2 separate regions of the Homo sapiens genome follow, and region 1 is linked to region 2. The links come from fine-mapping of genetic effects on gene expression. Tissue or cell type: whole blood. Region 2 holds a variant in brackets; the other region holds the start of a gene. All regions are shown on one strand. Distances are from middle to middle.

Region 1 (8,000 bases), 62 kb before region 2:
TCAAGTTGTTTGGGATGGCCCAAGTAGAAGGCTTGGGAGGTAGCGAGTTCCTCTTCTGTGGAGATGAGGACTTGGGAGGGATGTGGAGGAAACTGAATTCCAGATGTGGGAGGGAGCCTGACAATCTGTGATTCCAGTTTATTGCTCATGGTCTCAACTCTCCCCCTCTACAGAGGTGACTTCCGCCCTGGCCTGAGTTTCAATCCCACAGTTCCTTTTTTCCCCCCTTAAATGAGACATATCTTGCTCTGTCACCCATGTCAGAATGCAGTGGCACAATCATGGCTCACTACAGCCTTGACCTCCCCCGATCGCCTGAGCTCAAGCGATTGTTTCATGTCAGCCTCTTGGGTAGCTGGGACTACAAGCACACACCATCACGCCCAGAGAATTTTCGTACTTTTTGTAGAGATGGGGTTTTGCCATGTTACCCAGGCTGGTCCTGAATTCCTGAGCTCAAGTGATCGTCCGCCTTGGCTGCTCAAAGTGTTGGGATTACAGGCATGAACACGGCCCATACCACTGAAAGGTCTATATGGACAACTCAGCATAACTCCCAATTAAGCCCATCTAAAACGGAACTCTTTATTTTTTCTCCTCTCCTTTGGTATAACCTCCTTTATTTTTCTCCTCTCCTTTGTATAACCCGACTTCCCTCTTTATGTATTTTCCACACCTCTTTCTTTCACTCCTCAAACCCAGATGAGCACAGACTGTTACCCATTCTTCCCATGAGACTTCTCCCACACTGGCCCTACCCACTCCATTTCTATGGCCACCACCGTAATTCAGACCTTTGTCATCCATAAAATAGATTCCTAAACAATCTCCCTGAATAGATTCCTAAACAATCTCCATTTTTTTTTTCCTGGGAATTCTTAGCATACAAGGTCAGTCTAATCTTCCTCAAACACAGTTCTGGCAGTGTCACAAAAGCCTGATTGGCCAGGTGCAGTGGCTCACGCCTATAATCCCAGCACTTTGAGAGGCTGACTCGGGCAGATCACTTGAGGTTAGGAGTTCTAGACCAGCCTGGCCAACATGACAAATCCCTGTCTCTGCTAAAAATACAAAAATTAGCCAGGTGTGGTGGTGCACACCTGTAATCCCAGCTACTTGGGAGGCTGAGGCAGGAGAACTGCGTGAACCCGGAGGTGGAGGTTGCAGTGAGCCGAGATCGCGCCACTGCACTGCAGCCTGGGCAACAGCGTGAGGCTCCATCTCAAATAAATAAACAACCTTTGATAAACACTTGCTTCCCAAGAAATGAAATACAAACTTCTCAGCTAACATTCATGGGACCGGCACAATCTAGTTTTTCCCAACCTGCTGTTTCCAGCTGTACCTAAAACCACTCAACTCTCCACAAATTCACTGAGGCCCTTTCAGCCCAGTCGCATGTTGGACAAAAAAAACAGAAGAAAGACTTAGTACCTGGCAAGACTTAATACCTGGCTCTGAGGTGCTCTCAGTTACAAGACAGAGGAGTAAATAATTACCAGAAGATGCAGTCAGTGATAAGATAAACAAAGGACACTGCTTGCCCTAATGTCCCCACTCCAAAATAAATGATCTATTCACTGTCCCCTGAATACTGGCCTATGCTTATTTTTTCCCGCTAGGATTTTATTTGGCCTTTTTTCTCCTCCTTTCCTGTCTAAACATTTCCCATTGTTAAATGCTCAGGCCCTAGTGCCCCTCCTTTGAGAATTCTGATTCCAAGGCAAGGGATCTTTCCCTCCTCTGGAGTTGAATGTTCCATTGAGAAACACCTACTCTTCCAGCATGTCTCAGCTTATCTGCTGTGTGTGTGTGTGTGTGTGTGTGTGTGTGTGTGTGTGTGTGTGTGTGTGTGTGTGTGTGTGTGTGCGCGCGCGCGCGCGCGCGCTTTTGAGCCGGAGTTTAGCTCTTATCACCCAGGATGGAGTACAATGGCACAATCTTGGCTCACAGCAACCTCCACCTCCTGGGTTCAAGGGATTCTCCTGCCTCAGCCTCCTGAGTAGCTGGGACTACAGGCACACGCCACCATGCCCAGCCAATTTTTGTATATTTAGTAGAGATGGGGTTTCGCCACATTAGCCAGTCTGGTCTCAAACTCCTGACCTCAGGTGATCTGCCCGCCTTGACCTCCCAAAGTGCTGGGATTACAGGCATAAGCCACCACACCCGGCTTTTTTTTTTTTTTTTTTTGAGACAGAGTCTTTCTCCGTCGCCCAAGCTGGAGTACAGTGGGGTTATCTCGGCTCACTGCAACCTCCCTCCACCTCCCGGGTTCAAGCGATTCTCCTGCCTCAGCCTCCGGAGTAGTTGGGGCTACAGGTGTACACCACCACGCTGGGCTAATTTTTGTATTTTTAGTAGAGATGGGGTTTCACCATGTTAGCCAGGCTGGTCATGAACTCCTGGCCTCAAGTGATCGGCCCGCCTCAGCCTCCCAGAGTGCTGGGATTACAGGCATGAGCCACCTTGCCTGGGGGTGTTGTTTAATTTTAAAAATATGTATCAGGCCGGGCGCGGTGGCTCACGCCTGTAATCTCAGCACTTTGGGAGGCCGAGGCGGGTGGATCACGAGGTCAGGAGTTCGAGACCAGCCTGACCAACGTGGTGAAACCCCGTCTCTACTAAAAAAAAAATACAAAAAATTAGCCAGGTGTAGTGGTGCGCTAATCCCAGCTACTCAGGAGAATGAGGCAGGAGAACCACTTGAACCTGACAGGCAGAGGTTGCAGTGAGCCAAGATCGCGCCACTGCACTCCAGCCTGGGCTAGAGAGACTCCGTCTCAAAAAAATAAATAAATTCATACATTTAAGTAATAAACTCATTGTGAGCAAGGAATTCTACTCGACTTTCTGTCTGCGTAAACTCTACAAATCCACTTGGCCTCAGCCACAGTGTCTTTATTCGTAAAGCAGAAACAGTGGGACCGTCAGAGCACTGCCGGGCAGGCGAGAGAAGACAGGAACTGTATGACCACGGAAGTTGTTGTCCCTACAACCTATTTGCTCATCTGGAACACAGAATAGTGGTCCTCTAAAGCTTGCAGGGCTGGAGGTCGCCATTATCAGCAGTGGTGTCACTAAACCTGAACCCAAGGGTCTCTGCAACTTGGGAAACGACGGCCCGGATCTGAGGAGATGGCCCCTTCCTCCCACCCCGCCTAAGGACTCTCAGCCTCCCTGACCCTACCTTTCCGGAGCTCAGAGTCCCCTCTGGCCTCCAAGGGCAGAAGGAATGGGTTTGGCTGAGGTCGGGGGCTCGGGTCTGGGACGCGCTCCACCTCCCCGGCTGCGCGACTATGGCCAGGCTCCCTGTCGGAGCCTCTGCCTGGGGCCCCACCTGGAAAAATGGCTCCTCTAAGGCGCTTCCAGCCTAAAGCCCGTCCTCTTCCACCTCTTGGGTGCAGACTGGCCCTCCCACTCCGACCGCAGGTCCCCCACCGGCCACACAGACGGCTACGCTAGAACCCAGCCAAACACCGGGGTTGCCAGGATGGTCCCACAGCTTTCCTTTCCGACTCCCGGAAGTGGCCGTGATCTCACGAGATCCCGGAGGCGAGCGCGACCGGAAGTCCGGTCACTCTCGCGAGGCCCCAGAGAGCAGGCGCTGGGCAGTGTGGAGGTCGTTGGAGTCACTTCCCCGTCACCAGCTCCTGTGCCTGCCAGTCGGTGCCCCTCCCGCTCCAGCCATGCTCTCCGCCCTCGCCCGGCCTGCCAGCGCTGCTCTCCGCCGCAGCTTCAGCACCTCGGCCCAGGTAGGCCAGACGAGGGGCGGCCTGCAGGCGGAGGCCCCCCGGCCCGGGCCACGTGCGTCCCCGGTTCGCGGGCAGCTCTGACCCTCTCCAGGCCAGCCTGGACCGCAGGGATGCCCGGCACTGGCTGGAGACTGTGGCGCCCGGGGCAGGCCCTGACACTGGCCTGGAGGTGCGGGGGAGAAAGCCGGGGAAAAGGGGGCGAGGTAGTCCCGCTCCAGGGCCGGTCCATTTGTCAGGGTTCCCCCAGGTCTCCCAGATTTCCCAGAGGACCTGCTCTTGGCTTGCACGCCTTCAAGGTTGGGAAACCAGGGCTCTGCATCTGAAAGTAAACTTACGTTTTTTTCTGCAGCGTTCCATTGCTTTGACGTAGCTAATCTCCTTGCAGCATCCGTGTGAGTTGTGCGTGAATAAAAGAAATCGTATACTTCCTAATTCCATAGTATGGACAAACCGAGGCTAGAGAACTGGGCCAGGGTTACAGTCATTTGGCCAGAGGATTAGAATTCAGCGCTTCTGACCTGAAGACGGCTTCCTCTTAACCTTTTTGGAGGATCTCTCCTGCTGTGGGCGGACTGAGCCTGCCGCCAGGTGTCTTAACAGTGCTTGACTTGGCCCGCGACCACTTAAGCCTAGGAGCCTAGGCTATTTTTAGCCATCTTCTAGAATGGTGGTTCTTAAACTCTGCAGTGTGTCAGAATCACCAGAAAGCTAATAAAAAACAGACGTCTGGGTTCATTGAAGAAGCTTAAGACTGCGGGGGGGGGGGGGGGGGTCCGCATTTTTACCAGGTGAATCTAATTAAACCTAATTTTGAGAACCCAGGAGGTGCTCGCATTGCCTTTTAATTACGACGCCCAAGAGGGAGGTAATTTTAAAGGGGAATCCAAATTTATCATCGAAGTTCTCGAGTTTCCTGTACATCCAGTTCATTTGAAAAATAAATACAAATGCTCCTGGATTGATGGCTACTTCCCATACCCATCGCAAGTTGGTAATATCCTAAGTCAAAAGGCGAGTTTAACTTTGTGTATTTTCAACTTGCAATGGGTTCCCACAGGCAACCCCATTGTAAGTTGAATGTACCAAATGCTTTTGCGCTGCGGTGAAGTGGGGGCCCAGCTGTATACAGATAAGTACATTAAGTACCTGTGCTTGCCAACAACTATGCTGGGTGCTGCAGGGGATACCAAGATAAGTGAGAAGTGACACTTGATATGGGACAGGAATGAGTAAACTTAGGACAGGTGGAAGCGATGAAGGTCTTAGGGAATGAGTAAACTTAGGACAGGTGGAGGCGATGAAGGTCTTAGGGAATGAGTAAACAGGACAGGAGGGATGAGGTGTGGGGGAGGGGCAGCCAACCAAAGAGAGGACAGGGGTGTCCAGGGAGAGGTTGAGTTTTGGTAGGACCTTCAGATATCCGACATATTTATTGAGCTAGGTACTGGAAATACAGCGGTGAACAAAACACAGAAGTCCCTGCTCTCACGGAAATTACTAGATATTTTACTTATTGCCCCACTCATTATAAAGTATCTTAAAATAGTGATGAACATGCAAGAAAAATGGGGATTGTAGGGTGCTTGTGTTAGGGAAGAGGGTACCAATTTTATTTACTTTTTTTGATGCAGTGCCTCGCCCTGTCGACAGGCTGGAGTGCAGTGGCGTGATCTCGGTTCACTGCAGCCTCCACCTCCCAGGTTGGAGCGATTCTCCTGCCTCAGCCTCCCGAATAGCTGGGACTACAGGCGCGCACCACCGTGCCCAGCTAATTTTTGTGTTTTTAGTAGAGATGGGGTTTCACCATGTTGGCCAGGATGGACCTGACAGAGTCCCACTCTGTTGCCCAGGATGGAGTGCAGTGGCGCCATCTTGGCTCACTGCAACCAACTCTTGGGCTCAAGCTATCCTCCTGCCTCATCCTCCCGAGTAGGTGGGAATCACAGGCAAGGGCTACGACAGCTGGGTAATTTTTGTAGTTTTAGTAGAGATGGGGTTTCACCATGTTGGCCAGGCTGGTCTCAAACTCCTGGCCTTAAGTGATCCACCCTCCTTGGCCTCCCAAAGTGCTGGGATTACAGGCGTGAGCCACCACTCCCAGCCGAGGGTAGCAGTTTTACATCAGCCAGGGTAGGCCTCACGCAGAGTGAGATGTTTGAGTAAAGTCTGAAGGAAGCAGAGATCACATCATATGGAAAGAGTATTGCAGGTAAGGGATATGTCTCAGGATGTAGCTGAGAGCCCTTGGAGAAGCATGGGGCATGCCTTGAAGGTTTGAGAAAATGAGGCTAGGGTAGTTCCAGAGAAGGCAGTGGAGGTAACAGAACAGGCCTTGTAAAACTTTGGTATTTTCTCAGAAATGGGGCGGCCAGTTGAGGGTTTTCAGCTGCGTAATGACTTGCTCTTCCTTCCATTTTAACAAGATGGTCTTAGGAGTGAGAGAAAGGTAGGTTAGGAGTTCATTGTGGTTATCTAGGTGCAGGTGGTAAGAAATGATTGAATTCTGGGTATTCATTGATGGTACCAGAAGGATTTGCTGATGTGTGATTAGATAAGGGGTCGGGGATGACACCAAGGTTTTGGGCCTTGGAGTTGGGCTGAAATAGGCAAGACTTATAGAAGAGAGTGGGTTTAACCAGGGAGAAGATATCAGGAGTTCAGTTTTTATTTATTTACTGAGAGTCTCGCTCTGTTGCCCAGGCTGGAGTACAGTGGCGTGATCTCGGCTCACTGCAGCCTCCGCCTCCTGGGTTCAAGTGGTTCTCTCACCTCAGCCTCCTGAGTAGCTGGGATTACAGGTGCTGCCACCACGCCCAACTAATTTTTTTTTGTATTTTCAGTAGAGATGGGGTTTCGCCATGTTGGCCAGGCTGGTCTCAAACTCCTGACCTCAGGTGATCCACCTGTCTTGGCCTCCCAAGGTACTGGGATTATAGACGTGAGCCACCACACCCGGCCAGGATCTCAGTTTTTCATATGTTCAATTTAAAATGCCTGTTGGGCATACAAGCGACATTGTTGAGAAGGCAGCTGATGAAAGCAGAAAGAAAGATGGGCTTGAGCCCATGGTGCAGTGGTCTCCAGACTTTGGATTTTTTTTTTTTTTTTTTTTGAGACGGAGTTCCGCTCTTGTTGCCCAGGCTGGAGTGCAATGGTGCGATCTCAGCTCACCGCAACCTCCGCCTCCCAGGTTCAAGCCATTCTCCTGCCTCAGCCTTCCGAGTAGCTGGGATTACAGGCATGCGCCACCATGCCTGGCTAATTTTGTATTTTTAGTAGAGACAGGGTTTCTCCATGTTGGTCAGGCTGGTCTCAAACTCCCGACCTCAGGTGATGCGCCCATCTCAGCCTCCCAAAGTGCTAGGATTAAACGCGTGAGCCACCACGCCTAGCTGGATCCTGTATCTTTAACAGTAAAAGCGTAGGAAGCACATAGCCCCAATGTATTTACTTATAGGTATATGTACTAATATATACATTACAATATAAACTCAAGTAGAAATTTTAAAACAAACCATAACACGTTATAAAGTGTTAAAACTTATAAATGAAGGCAGTGTTAACATATGTCGGTTTTCAACACAGTTGCCAAGCAGTGTGCTGTTGATAGCCACTCTGCCACCCAGCAAAGGTCAGCGGGTCTGGAAGACAGCTCTTTGACAAGGAGATCATGATCTAACCTCCGGGCCACCAAAGATTTTCATCTCATTGCAAAGCATGTAAAGATTATACTACTTAAGGATTGTGGTTTTGTAAAAATTAAGTTGGTGACATCCTGTAATATACAAACAGTGACATCACCTTGACAAAGTGAAAGCAAAGAAACCAGTGAGGCAGTCTTCTTCCCCTCCCTCCCCCATGTTGTGTTCACCTTATGTACACATGGGACCCATCCATTTAAGCACCCTAGCGAGGGCACAGGTCGGTCCATTTCTTGGTAGAGATTAATTCTTTGTTAGATAAAGATAGAGACAGTCTGGGCATGGTAGCTTACACCTATAATCCCAGCACTTGAGCTCAGAAGTTTGAGACCAGCCTGGGCAGTGTGGCAAAACCTCATTTCTACAAAATGAGTGGTGTGTACCTGTAGTCCCAGCTACAGCTAAGGTGGGGAGGATGGCTTGAACCGAAAATGCAGAGGTTGCAGTGAGCCAAGATCGCACCACTGCACTCCAGCCTGGGTGAGAGAGGGAGACCCTATCTCAAAAAAAAAAAAAAAAAAAAAGATACACTCATTGCAGCAGT
Region 2 (8,259 bases):
CTTTTGTTTGCACTCCCCTTAAGTCATCCACAGGAACAGCTACTTTACATAGAAAAGTCAATCTCAGAGGGTTGACTAACTTGCCCAATTACTGAAAAAGGTAAAGCTTCAATTAGCACCCAGGCTCATCTGATGCTAGTATTCCCTCTCCACCCCTCCATGTGGCTTCTCTTTATTTATTTTAATTTTCTTTGAGACAGAGTTTCACTCGTTGCCCAGGCTGGAGTGCAATGGCGCTATCTTGGCTCACTGCAACCTCTACCTCCTGGGTTCAAGCGATTCTCCTGCCTCAGGCTCCCAAGTAGCTGGGATTACAGGTGCCTGCCACAATACCCATTTAATTTTTTGTACTTTTAGTAGATAGGGGGTTTCACCATATTGACCAGGCTGGTCTTGAACTCCTGACCTCAAGTGATCCACCCGCCTAATCCTCCCAAAGTGCTGGGATTACAGGCATGAGCCACCGTGCCTGGCCTTGGCTTCCCTTTAATAAATCACCACTCAATTTGATGTGGAGGCTCTGTTAGTTCGCAAAATATAATGAGTGGATTATTTCCAAATCCACTTCCTCTGTTTTATCTATCAGTGTAATCAAGGGCCAGGGTCTTCCCTTGTTCTTGCCTCAAGGTGAAACAGAAGTGGCTTCCCTGTGCTCCGCAGCAGGTTAGACCTAGGCTTAAATCCTGAAGAGTGCTGAGACTCCACTGCACACTGCCATGCCGAGGCCCCTGTGATGTGTCTCGACAGGGGTCCTCTCCCTCCAAGCTCCATGAACCCCAGTGCTGGGACCCTGGTCACCAGCCTAAACTTAGTCTCAGAGTTCAGTAACCTTTAGGAACCCTGAAGCCCGTGACTTCTCACACCCCTGCCATCCTATTCTTAGTTCTCTGTCTGTATTAACTCAATTAATCCTGACAACTTTTGATGCAGAAACTATTGTTTTTTATGTTTTACAGGTGAAGAAACTGAGGCTTGGAGACGCAATGCAGCCTGCCCAAAATCACATGGTTAATAAGTTGCAGAACTAGAATTCAAACTCCAAGTCTACCTCCTGGACCCAAGCTCTTAACCCCTGTGCTATGAGCTAATAACATATGGAGAATTTTGATTATTTTCCTTAGCATTTACCACCATATAACATAATATGCATTATACTTATTTATCTTGTTTATGCCTGTCTCTCCCACTAGACTATAAGCCCCACGAGGGCAAAGATCTTTATTAACTGTATCAGCATCTAGAATAGGCCCCAACCATAGAGTAGGCACCCAGTACATATATATATATATATATACACACACACACACACGTTTATACACACACATATACATACACATAGATATATAATTTTGTATTTATATTTTTGAGACAGAGTCTCTGTCGCCAGGCTGGAGTGCAGTGGCGCAATCTCGGCTCACTGCAACCTCCGCCTCCTGGATTCAAGCCATTCTCGTGCCTTAGCCTCCCAAACAGCTGGGATCACAGGCCTGCGCCACCATGCCTGGCTAATTTTTGTATTTTTAGTAGAGACGGGGTTTTACCATGTTGTCCAGGCTACTCTTGAACTCCCAGCCTCAAGTGATCCACCCACCTCAGCCTCCCATAGTGCTGGGATTACAGGTATGAGCCACCAGGCCCAGCCGACATCCCCTGCCTTGATACAGATATTCACAGCTTCCTGCTTGAGGAAATGTTAATGGACCAAGAACACAGTCCCCCTATTCCTTGGAGATTTCAGAGATTGAAAACAATCTCAAACACCAAACACAACTTACCAAAAGCTGCCTTGAGGGAGATGGATAGGTGAGGTCACCACATTCCTCGTCTTTCTGACACCACAGAGAAGCTTCCACTCTAAGGAAGCAGAAACATGAGCTGTTGCTTTCTCTTAAGGTTTGAAACTCAGGTGCCTTATTTCCCCCAATGTATTCTTCCATTAGTAGGTAGTAAGTATAAAGCAAAACAAAATAAGCAACTACCTGATCCTCTTTTGAATGGCAAGATCTTTCTTCTCATCATCAGTGAGCCGAGATCGTGCCACCACACTCCAGCCTGGGCAACAGAGCAAGACTCCTTCTCAAAAAAATAACAAGTCAGTGGATGTCATCTTTCCTCATTCCTCCCAGGGGTGCGCATTTTTCAGCATTCCCCAGTCACATCTTTCACTAGCATTGGATTGATGACATTTCCCATAGCACCCAGTCTTCCAGGCTCACTGGGGTTCTGGACAGAACGCATATTTACAGAGATGAGTCATGATGTACTTTTCAATCTGATCCATTATCTTCTCAACCCTTTCTGGAGGCACTGAAATAGCCAAACAGACAGAAAAGCTCAAGAGAGTATATATACTCCTTGTACCGGTAGTAAGTAAGCCACTCCTTGTACTGGCAGTAAGCCTAAAAGTACTCACAGATTATATTAATCCTTCAGGAGAGTAAAATCTATCCATTAATATTATTTCCAATATCCACTGTTGCAGGATTTTTCCTTAGTTCAGCTAAAGATGGGGTCCTTGTCCGTCTCAAGGCCACAAAAATTTAGGCTCGCAGACGGTTTGAATAGTGAGTAAGACAGGGTTTTATTGGGACTCTCACAAGGCCAGAGTCCCTGCTAGAGTGCTTTCCGCCAGCAGCTAGAATACTGGGTTTTACACAGTAAGAAGACGTGCCAGGCTCCTCCCCACTATCAACAGTGCAAACATCCTGAAGTTCCACCCCAGTGCACAGGCCGGTTGGAGTTTTTCCGGGGAGCTCCACCCCACTGCACAGGCCGGTTGGAGTTTTTCCGGGGACCCCTTCCTACCTAGCAGTCTCACCATGACCATCTCATTCTTTTTGCTACATCTACATATTATTAAATAGATTTAATGCATGTTTTGATAATTTACGTATTTTATGGACACTTCTATTTATCTAACCCACTGAACATTTTTGGTGGCTTTATAACATTCCATTATATTAACTGACTTATTCGACTCTCCTCTACCACTGTGCATTTAGGTTGATTCCCCTCTTTCACTGTTGTGCATCATAGCTATAAATAATTTTGTAAGGACTATCTTCTTTTGGGTTACTTCTCTGTGATACATCTCCAAAAGTGGCATTAACCTCTTAATAAGAATAAACAACTTTATAGTGCTAAGTATCTATTGCTAGCCACACTCCTCAGAAACTCAGTGCACACTGTCATTAACCACGTGTATGCGCTTATTTCCCTATGGCCCTTACAACATTGGGCTTGATAATTTGTATTTGATTTTACTGATTTTATATGTAGAACATACGTATGTATTCCTCACTTTCTGCCAAAGAATATTTAAAGTCTATTTAAAAGATAAATGCAGTTCAGCACAACAGACTAGAAAATAAAAAGAATAACAAATAACTGTAATCCCAGTGCTCTGGAAGGCTGCAGCTAGAGGATCGATTGAGCCTAGGAGTTCAAGACCAGCCTGGGCAACATAGTGAGACCCCACCTCCAGTAAAGACAGATAGATAGATAGATAGA[G/T]AGAGAGAGAGAGATACATAGATAGACAGACAGATTATGATAGATATTTTAAAAATTCTTTAAAAACTTTAGGCTGGGTGTGGTGGCTCACGCCTGTAATCCCAACACTTTGGGAGGCCAAGGCGGGCAGATCACAAGGTCAGGAGATCGAGACCATCCTGGCTAACATGGTGAAACTCCGTCTATATTAAAAATACAAAAACAAAATTATCTGGGCGTGGTGGCTGGCGCCTGTAGTCCCAGCTACTCAGGAGGCTGAGGCAGGAGAATGGTGTGAACCTGGGAGGCGGAGCTTGCAGTGAGCCGAGACTGCACCACTGCACTCCAGCCTGGGCAACAGAGTGAGACTCCACATCAAAAAAAAAAAAAAAAAAAAATCACACATGGAGAGAGACCTGAAGCAGAGCCACAGATGACAAGACAGAAATGTTCTCCTGGAATATGTCTAAATTAGTCAAGAGTCAGCCCATACATCTGTCTCTAACTAAACTTTTTAGCAACCATCACTAAGATGAAAACAGTCACATAATTCAGGGTTCAAAACATGAAAGCAAACTAATTCTTCAGGTGAAATTCTGACACCAAAATCAGAAATTTCTCCCAAGGGTTCTCACAAGGATGTCACAGTAGAAGAGCATGAATAAGGCCAAGAACAAACCCCCAGAACTGGCTGTCTCAGACCTCATCTACACAGGCCACTGACATCACACGCCAAGCGCCAATACATCCTGTGGAAGCCCACAGCAGTCTGACCGTCTGGCTTAACTCTAAAAGGATGGCAGGACACTTGGGGTCAGAGGCAGTCACCTCATTCCCTCAGTGAAAATGGCCAAGCACTCATGGCACTTTGTGATCACCTTGACTGCAGCCCTAATCACTGTCAACTAGTTACTCATATACATGTCATTTGGCTGAATTAAAATTGATCCCTCATCTATAAAAGCCTAGGTACTACCTTTAGTAAAGTTTAGATATTTCACTGTATTAAGCTCTTATTTATATTCATGACTTCCCATGTTTTTTATTGCACAGATTTTTAAAAAGTTAATATTATTAAGCCTTTTATCTGGTCATTAAAAACAATTCTTTTGGCCAGGCGCAGTGCCTCACACCTGTAATCCCAGAACTTTGGGAGGCCGAGGCGGGCAGATCACCTTAGGTCAGGAGTTCAAGACCAGCCTGGCCAACATGGCAAAACCCCGTCTCTACTAAAAATACAAAAATTAGCTGGGCAGGCTACTGCACACCTGAAATCCAGCTACTCGGGAGGCTGAGGCAGGACAATCGCTTGAACCCGAGAGGTGGAGGTTGCAGTCAGCCAAGATTGCGCCGTTGCACTCCAGCCTGGGCGGCAGAGCGACACTCTGTCTCAAAAACAAACAAACCAAACAAACACATTTTTTGTAAGTTTTTAATTTTATTTCTCTTTTTATTTTATTTGTTTTTTAATATATAGAAACAAGGTCTCACTATGTTGCCCAGTCTTGTCTCAAACTCCTGGGCTTAACTGATCCTCCTGCCTTGACCTCTAAAAGTGCTGGGATTATAGGTGTGAGCCACCATGCCCAGGTAAAACAATTTTTTGATAGTTCAATTTTTGCTTCTCTCTACAGCTGAAATACGTATCCTAAGGTACTGTTCATATATATATATATATTTTTCTTTTCTTTTCTTTTTTTTCCCCCGAGACGGAGTCTCGCTCTCTCACACAGGCTGCAGTGGTGTGATCTCATTGTAACCTCTGCCTCCCTGGTTCAAGCGATTCTCCTGCCTTGGCCTCCCAAGTAGCTGGAATTACAGGCAGGAACCACCACGCCCAAGCTAATTTTTTTTTTTTTTTTTTTTTTTTTTGAGATAGTCTCACTCTGTCCCTAAGGAGTACAATGGTGTGATCTTGGCTCAGTGCAACCTCCACCTCCCGGTTCAAGTGATCCTCCTGCCTCAGCCTCCTGAGTAGCTAGGATTACAGGCACCTACTACAACACTCAGATAATTTTTATATTTTTAGTAGTGATGGAGTTTCCCCATGTTGACCAGGCTGCTCTCAAACTCCTAGCCTCAACTCATCTGGCTGCCTCGGCCTCCCAAAGTGATGGGATTATAGGCATGAGCCACCATACCCAGCTCATATCCTAATCTACTTTCTTCTCAATTTTTTCATGTCAAGCTCTTTAATTTGGCTGGAATGTAAGGTGCATGGTATGAAACACAGAACTAAAACTCTATACAAGTGTATCTGTCATCACCATCAGCAGTTAGTAAAGCACAACCTTGTTCCCCCTCGTCCTCACAGGTGTCATGTAACTTGCTCCTGAGAAATTAAATCTATTTCTCAAATCTCTGGCTGATATCACTGTTCTGTATTTTCATTTTTTACCCAAATCTCATCTAGATGTGATGACTTTCATTTTAGAATGTATTAAAAACTCTGCTGGATTTAGAAACATCCCCGCTTCACAAATTCTTGCTTTTTACCCCCTCACAAAAATATCATATGGTATATTTGTTTCCTTGTTTTTCTATAATAAATAATGTAACACGGTAATTCAAATGATATTTTAAGTGTTTATACTGACCTGCAAAGTATTTTTTTTTTTGGAGACGGAGTCTCACTCTGTTGCCCAGGCTGGAGTGCAGCGGTGCAAACTTGGCTCACTGAAACCTCCGCCTCCCAGGTTAAAGCAATTCCCCTGCCTCAGTCTCCTGAGTAGCTGGGACTACAGGCGTACGCCACCACGCCTGGCTAATTTTTGTATTTTTAGTAGACACAGAGTTTCGCCATGAGGGCCAGGTTGGTCTGTAACTCTTGACCTCAAGTGATCCGCCTGCCTCAGCCTCCCAAAGCACTGGGAGTGTGATGACTAGGTTTTCACGTGTGAGATATGCCTCACTCACACCTTGTTACAACACTGGCACATTGCCTGTCGGATGTGAACAAAGACAAAAAAAGACCCTCACGCTCATAAGGGTGGAACTTGCTGTGACAGAGTTCATCTTGGCAGTGCTTGCTGAACACTTCCTGAATCTGGACTTCACTCATTGTGAGTCTCACAGAGAGAGGTTCTTCAGGTGAGGGTTATTGTCTTTAATTTCTTCTTCTGGAACACACTGTGTTGCCTTCTCCAAAACATCTGCAACCTCTAACGAGTCCTTGCAGAAGCCCTGAATGCTATACATATTTCCCTCCTCCACCAATTTTTGGCTGCTCTGCTCTGAGCCCTCAGTATCTGCCAGTGCTTGCTTATCTTCTTCCACAGCCTCCTTCAGCTGCTCTTCTAACTTGACTTCTTCCATGAGTATCTTGTCCATAGAGGGAGTATCTGTCCTCCATTTGGTTTGGATCCACATCCTCTTCCAAGTGCTGGCAACTGTTCTTTTGTTTTGTAGCTGTGTGCAGAACTGAGGAGAAGGCCTGGAGACAATGCCAACACCGGGAGACCGCGTGGCACCAGCCTCACGCATGGAGCCGCCGTGGCTGCCCCGGGATGATGATTTAAGTTTCCCCTCGCCCATCACTATATGCTTCTATGAAATGTTTTAAATTATTTTTATTCCTTCAGCATAATTATCAAATACATCTTTTATCTATTTTTTTCCTTATGACTTACAGATTCTGAGAGCTCAGAGCTATTTCCACTGCCTCACTTCTCATCCTCACTGCTTCTAGTTTTAAAATTAGGTCCTGGGTTGCTACCCCCGCTGAGGTTCTCACAATAATTAAAGCCTATTTGCTGGTTAAGGTTGCTTTGTTTTGGATACATACTTCTGTTCTTACAGTAATTACACAGCAGGGCAAATTACTCCTTGCATAAATATACACTTTAGAACAATGGAGTCATTTTAAAATATAGAAGGACACTTATCTTTCTACTTATTGTGGGAAAGATCATGGAAATGAAGATATAGTCATGTCTTAAACTGTATATTTTTTGTCCTCATGCAGGTACAAGGCTTTAAGTACATAATATATAATCAGTATCACTTTTTTTTTTTCTTTGAGACAGAGTTTTTTTGCTCCTGTTGCCAAGGCTGGAGGTGCAATGGCGCGATCTCGGCTACCTGCAACCTTCGCCTCCCAGGTTCAAGTGATTCTCCTGCCTCAGCCTCCCTAGTAGCTGGGATGACAGGCGCCCACTACCACGCCCAGCTAATTTTTTGTATTTTTAGTAGAGACAGGGTTTCACAATGCTGGCAAGGCTGGTCTCGAACTCCTGACCTCAGGCGATCCACCCACCTTGGCCTCCCAAAGTGCTGGGATTACAGGCATGAGCCACCGTGCCCAGCTCAGTATCAGATTTTTACAGAAGGACTGGCTAGAAAAAGAACAATGAAACAAGCAAAAGGTGTTACGTTGTGCTTAACTGCTTCCTGAGAAAAAAGAGCTTATCAGAATGACTACTAAGATGTCTTGTTGTAGAAACTGAATTGATTGCCCTGAAGGGAGTATTAAGGGATTAATAAAAATTAAAAAAATAAAAATAACTGAATTGAGAAACCCAAAAAATGGGCACTCCAGCCCATTTTAATAATAATTATTATTATTATTATTCAAGTTATGTTGTACATATTCGGTTTCAAAATTTAAAAATTTAAAAATTAAGCTTTATTAATTTGGTTCATCAATTTAAATTCTTGCTATGATTTGTAAGAACAGAAAAGTAGCTGGTGACAATCGTATGTTCAACATAAAAGGATTTTGTGTTAATGACATGGCTGCCTATCTCATTTGCAATGGAAATATCTTGTTTA

The links. PIP is the estimated chance that this variant, and not a neighbour inherited with it, causes the effect.
Region 1: it holds the start of MDH2, and the variant in region 2 is fine-mapped to the expression of MDH2 in whole blood (TOPMed, PIP above 0.99).

Annotation. Positions count from the first base shown.
Region 1 is chr7:76,044,472-76,052,471 of GRCh38, forward strand. It overlaps MDH2 (malate dehydrogenase 2), which reads left to right and starts at 3,635. Exons shown (of 9, transcript NM_005918.4): 1 at 3,635-3,755. The coding sequence starts at 3,690. It overlaps STYXL1 (serine/threonine/tyrosine interacting like 1), which reads right to left and starts at 3,529. Exons shown (of 9, transcript NM_001317785.2): 1 at 3,191-3,529. RefSeq lists enhancers at 3,002-3,784, 3,230-3,319, 3,430-3,509, 3,785-4,566 and a silencer at 3,760-3,919.
Region 2 is chr7:76,106,456-76,114,714 of GRCh38, forward strand. LOC124901854 (small nucleolar RNA U13) reads left to right here and starts at 6,343; the gene lies at 6,343-6,441. It also overlaps the pseudogene GTF2IP7 and the pseudogene GRPEL1P3. The variant G/T (reference allele first, on the strand shown) is at 3,511.